2 separate regions of the Homo sapiens genome follow, and region 1 is linked to region 2. The links come from fine-mapping of genetic effects on gene expression. Tissue or cell type: sun-exposed skin. Region 2 holds a variant in brackets; the other region holds the start of a gene. All regions are shown on one strand. Distances are between the middles of the regions.

Region 1 (2,916 bases), 22 kb after region 2:
CCCCATTTTGAAAAACAGGCAAAATAGAAGTAAGATGTGTGGGGATGCATGCTGAGATGACAAAACTATGAAAGCAAGCAAGGAAGTGGGAATATTGTGTATCTGAAATGAAATGCTGGCTCCATGGGTGTTCACCCCACCATCGTTCATTGAGCTGCACACTTGTGTGCTTTTCTATATGTGTGTGACCCTTCACAATCCAAATAGCTTAGAAAAAACTCAGAATCTCTCAAACCCAGTTAAAAATGTCTCCTAATAGCTTAGGATGTAGATTTTCAGTTCGATTTGTATCTATGATTATATCGTACATATTATTTTGAAACATGTAATTTGTATTTGAAATATTACGGACACCTCCCTTTTGGTCACACAGAATGTCAACTAGAATGGCTGTCATGAAAAACATTAAAAATACCAAATGTTGGAGAAAATATGAAGAAACTGGAACCTCCATCATTGCTGGTGGGAATATAAAATGGTGCAGCCACGTGGGAAAACAGTTGAGCAATTTACAAAAAGTTAAATGCGCACTTAACATATGAACCACCAATTTCACTCCTAGGCATCTACACCAGATAAACAAGGACATATGCCCATACAAACTTTTATATTCAAGTGTTCATGACAGCATAGTTTATAATGGCCAAAACATGGCACCAAACCAAATGTCCAAAAGCTGATGAATGAACAAACTGTGGTCTACCCACACAATGGAACACCATTCAGCAATGAAAAGGGACAACCTTCTCATACCTGCTGCAACATGGATGACCCTTGGAAACGTGCCATGTGAAAAGAGCCACACAAAACTCTTATACCTTGTATGATTCCATTTGTATTGTCAATGTTGGCGTATAGCTCCATCGCGTGGACATAGCATAAATTCCTTCACCAAGCCCTGTTGTTGGACTTGACGTTGTTCCCCGGTTTCCAATATTACAAGCAATGCTGTGAGGACCATCTTTGTGGCTACATATTTGTGGCCGACCTTATTCATGTCTTTGCACCAATGCCCAGAAGTGGAACTGCCAGTCTGAAGGTGTGTGCATTTTAAAGCTTTCGGGAAATATCGCGGAGCGGCCCTGCACAAAGTTTGCTCAGACTGCACTCCCACCAGCAGATCTAGAGGGTCTAGTGTCTCCTTTCTCCAATACAACACCTCCCTCTTGGCGCTACTCACCCATGGGAGGCTGTCCCAGGTCCCAGGGTCCCCCCGCTCACCATGCTCTGTATTTGTTTGTAGTTTCCTGGGTGCGCTGCCACCATGGTCTGGTTCTGCAACAGTGCCGACTGCCAATTTTCAGTCTTCGCCCTTACCACCATAGGATGGATCCTCTCCTCTACGTCCACGGGCCTCGTGGAGTGGCGAATATGGTACATGAAAGACACCTCGCTCTACCCCCCTGGAATCGCCTGCGTGGGAATATTTAGAGTCTGCATTTACCGGCGTCGCACCAACAGCACCACAACCAAATTTTGTTACCGATACAGCTACCAGGACACCTTTCTCCCTTTTGAAATTTCCATGGCTCAACGCTTCCTACTGACTGCCAGCATTTTCGGATTCTTCGGGAGAGCCTTTAACATGTTTGCACTTAGAAACATGTCCATGAGAATGTTTGAGGAGGACACCTACAATTCATTCGTTGTTTCAGGAATTCTCAACATTGCTGCTGGTGTCTTTAACTTAATTGCTGTGCTCCAGAACTACGATGCCGTCATAAACTCACAGGGGATCACCTTCCTGCCATCTCTCCAAATGCCCTTCAAGCCAGATGTGCAGGAAGTTGGCACTGCCATTCAAGTGGCAGGGATAGGTGTCTTGCCGATGCTGTTAACTGGGATGTTTTCTCTGTTTTACAAATGTCCCCCGTACGGCCAAGTGCATCCTGGTATTTCAGAAATGTGAATTTCCTGGTTGCATTGGCTTTGCAAATCTAAGATTTCTGGGAGTTTATGGAAAATGTTATTAGCATGCTCTACCAAATATTTCCAACGACTCAAGACCGTGGCATGGGTAGTTTGGGACAGAAGGTGGCCAACTGCCTCCTTCTGTTATCTTGTGTATCTGAATGTGGCTCACTGATTTGTTGGTTGAATTGAGAACTTTTATTTAAAAGTCTTCCCACCTGCCAGTTGGTCTTATTGCATCTGAATTTTAATTATTGTTGGCTACAGCAAATAATCAACCCTGTAAACTAAGAGTAGGGAAATAAGAGTTTCTGAGTACATTAACTTCTCACATTTCCCTCTTAAACTTTTGCTACAAACAATCATAGGCCAGGCATGGTGACTTACGCCTGTAATCCCAGCACTTTGGGAGGCCGAAGTGGGAGGATCACTTGAGGCCAGGAGTTCAAGACCAGCCTGGGCAGCATAGCAAGACCTGGTCTCTACAAGAAAAAAAAAAAATAGCTGGGTGTGGTGGTGCGTGGCTGTGATTCTAGTTACTTGGGAGGCTGAAGTGCGAGGATCACTTGAGCCCAGGAGTTGGAAGCTCCAGTGAGACGTGATGGCACCACTGCACTCCAGCCTGGGCCATATAACAAGACCCTGACTCTTTAAAAAAACTCCAATAAACAAAAAACCAAGAATGGACCTTATTTTCTATGTCATGGTAATAACATCTCCCTACCATATAAAGTTTTCTAAAATGTGCAAAAGTAGAGAGGATAGCATAAGGAATCTCCACACACCCATTGCCAGACTCCACAGTTACTGAGATTAGGGCACTTCTGCTTTCTCTTTCCATTCTTTTACCTTTCTAATCTATGTTTCTTTTTCCCAAGTTTTTTTTTTTTTTTGAGACAGAGTCTTGCTCTGTCGCCTGGACTTGAGTGCGGTGGCGTGATTTTAGCTCACTGCAACCTCTGCCTCCCAGGTTCAAGCGATTCTCCTGCCTCAGCCTCCCGAACA
Region 2 (2,887 bases):
TTCTTCTTTCCCTTAGTCGTATAAATCCCCTATTATTTGGTGATGCAAAAGTGAGCTTTCACGCAGGTCAGCTGCACCTTTCACGTAGGTGCGCCAAGGTGGCAGTGAGCAGTGTGGCCGGGGTGGGGGCCGGCCTAACCAGTGTCTCCGTGTTCCCTTGCCATCCCGTGCCCAACAGCAGGAGCTCATCGAGAGCATCAGCCGCAAGCTGCAGGTGCTCCGGGAGGCCCGCGAGAGCCTGCTGGAGGACGTGCAGGCCAACACCGTGCTGGGGGCCGAGGTGGAGGCCATCGTGAAAGGCGTCTGCAAGCCCAGCGAGTTTGACAAGTTCCGGATGTTCATTGGAGACCTGGACAAAGTGGTGAACCTCCTGCTGTCGCTGTCAGGCCGCCTGGCCCGGGTGGAGAATGCCCTCAATAATTTGGACGACGGCGCTTCTCCCGGTGATCGGGTAAATGCAGATACGTCTGACTTGGAAATGGGGGGTGGTCTCGTGGGAAGGCTGTTTTTCAAGTGTCGTGAAAGTCAGCTCCTTGGAGCCTAGCATAGCTTCCACATGGCCTGTCCACCTCCTCCTGCAGACCTTGTCGAGACAGTGCACGCTCTATACCCTCTCCTTCCTTTTATATTTCTTTAGTTGTTTGTTTGTTTGTTTGTTTGTTTGAGACAGGGTCTCATTCTGTTGCCCAGGCTGGAGTGCAGTGGTGCGATCTCGGCTCACTGCAGCCTCTGCCTCCCGAGGTTCAAGAGATTCTCCCACCTCAGCTTCCCGGGTAGCTGAGCTCCCAGGTGCATGCCACCATGCCTGGCTAATTTTTGTATTTTTTTGGTAGAGATGGGATTTCACTATGTTGGCCAGGCTGGTCTGGAACTCCTGAGCTCAAGTGATCCGCCTACCTCAGCCTCCCAAAGTGCTGGGATTACAGGTGTGAGCAACTGTGCCTGGCCTCCTTCCTTTTAATTGAGGGGAAAAGGTGCTTATCAGATGCAGGGAGTTGAACCGTCATTGGACTGCAGGGTTGCGGGATCTTCTCAAAGAACTGTTACCTCTTTTTAACATCTTTTTAGATATTCCTATTGACTCTTACTGATAATTGTCTCTTCTTAGAAAAATCATGTTGTTGTTGTTTTTACTTTTCTTTTACCATGTATAAGTCCGTAACAGACATGCCTGCCTGCTGACGATCGTAAGTACTCAATGATAGCTATTTTCTTGTGGTGGTTGTAGCTGTGATTTAACAAGAGGGCATGTATCAGTCTAGAAGGAAGCAGACAGTGCATCTAACTTCAAGGCGTTTCTCAGTGGGTCTGTCTTTTCGTCCTTTCACATATGAACCAAGAGAAATAATAGCTGCCTCGTTGGCTTTTACCTCATAGGCCAAATATCAGTAAAACAGCTAGTTTTGTTTGCACAGAACAGGCCTTCAGAATGTTCATCTGTATCATGAATAAAACATCTTAACCTCTCTCAGAAGGGGAGCAGAAGAAGCACCCTTCCCCTTTCTCCAGGTGAGGGTGATTTGGGCCACGCAGAACGCTGTCCTGGCGCTGGGCTTGGAGACGGTGCCCTTCTGCACTCAGCCGAGTGCTTAGTAACTGTGTCGTGGAACTAGCTAGGTCAGGGTGGCACCGTGCCCGAGGGGGCTGCTGGCCGACACCCGTGCACAGCACTGCGTCTTCTCCACCCTCAGGCTTCCTTGTGTGCAGATATGCTCTGCAGGCTCGGGGGCTTCTCCTCCTCCTGCCAGGAGCATTTAGTAAGCCTACCCTGAATTCCTCTCGAGTCCACCCATGTGGCCAGCTGTCCCACGGTGTTCCCATGGAGCGGACCTTGAC[G/T]CCAAGAGGGCCCCGCAGTCCTTTGCCCTTTGCAGCATCTCAGAATTCTGTCGTTGTGAGTCCCTTGGTGACTCTTCTGCTCACCATTCGAGGCAGGTGGGAGAGAGTCAGGCTCAGACAGCAAGAGGAAACCCAGAGAGGCCTGTGGGCGGCTTCTGGGGGCCTCAGGCTGGCCCGCTGCAACCATGAGACACATGCCCCCAGGCCCTGGGCCCTGGGTTTGTCTGTGTGGACCCCATCGGATCTCTGGTGGCATCAGGGTTTCCATCGATAAGTTGTGGGACCAGCCCACAAGTTGCCAGTGTCTTCAAGGGTTGGCCAGTGCCCCAGCTTTCATCCTGGTCCTCAACAGGCTTGTTTGTCTGTCAACAGCAATCACTGCTTGAGAAGCAGAGAGTCCTGATCCAGCAGCACGAGGACGCCAAGGAGCTCAAGGAGAACCTGGACCGCCGCGAGCGCATCGTCTTTGACATTTTGGCCAACTATCTGAGCGAGGAGAGCCTCGCGGACTATGAGCACTTCGTGAAGATGAAGTCGGCCCTCATCATCGAGCAGCGGGAGCTGGAAGATAAAATCCACCTTGGTGAAGAGCAGCTGAAGTGCTTATTGGACAGCCTTCAGCCCGAAAGGGGCAAATAAGAGACCAGTCCCCGGTGGAGGAGGGGCACGGGGCCTCCGAGCTCCAGCTCCGTTCCCAAGGATACTCGTGAAGACCCCATCTGTGTTCATGGCCTGGAAAGAGACTTCTCCCATAGCAAAGAGGCTGTTATAAAAGCAATAACTTTTGTGTTTGTGTGGGATGATTTATTTAATTTTTTAGTTTCCCCTTTGATTGCTGAGAGCCATTTTCCTTTACACATAACTACACCTGACACCAGGCTCTGCTGGATGTGAGTTTCCACTGCATGGGCTGTGGGCTGGGCCTGTGGTGCCTGCCGAGTGGTCACTGTCAGTGGGAAACCCGTTGTTCCTCCCGTCTTCAGATGCTGAGCCAACTGCTTGGACAGCAGCCAGCGCGTCATGACGTGCATGAGAGGGGGACCCTGGTGCT

Which allele goes with the higher level. Positions count from the first base shown, and alleles are read on the strand shown. Sizes are in standard deviations (SD) of each study's normalised expression.
As copies of G replace T in region 2, the expression in sun-exposed skin of the gene that starts at base 1,265 in region 1 goes up (small effect, 0.31 SD a copy in GTEx).

What was found. PIP is the estimated chance that this variant, and not a neighbour inherited with it, causes the effect. A credible set is the group of variants that fine-mapping cannot tell apart.
Region 1: it holds the start of CLDN34, and the variant in region 2 is the best candidate, but not a certain one, in a credible set for the expression of CLDN34 in sun-exposed skin (GTEx, PIP 0.71).

Annotation. Positions count from the first base shown.
Region 1 is chrX:9,966,094-9,969,009 of GRCh38, forward strand. CLDN34 (claudin 34) reads left to right here and starts at 1,265. Exons shown (of 1, transcript NM_001195081.2): 1 at 1,265-2,259. The coding sequence starts at 1,265. The coding sequence ends at 1,909.
Region 2 is chrX:9,944,463-9,947,349 of GRCh38, forward strand. It overlaps SHROOM2 (shroom family member 2), which reads left to right. Exons shown (of 10, transcript NM_001649.4): 9 at 179-451; 10 at 2,209-2,887. The coding sequence ends at 2,475. Among named protein-coding and RNA genes, the nearest start is that of CLDN34, 21 kb to the right of the region's middle. The variant G/T (reference allele first, on the strand shown) is at 1,837.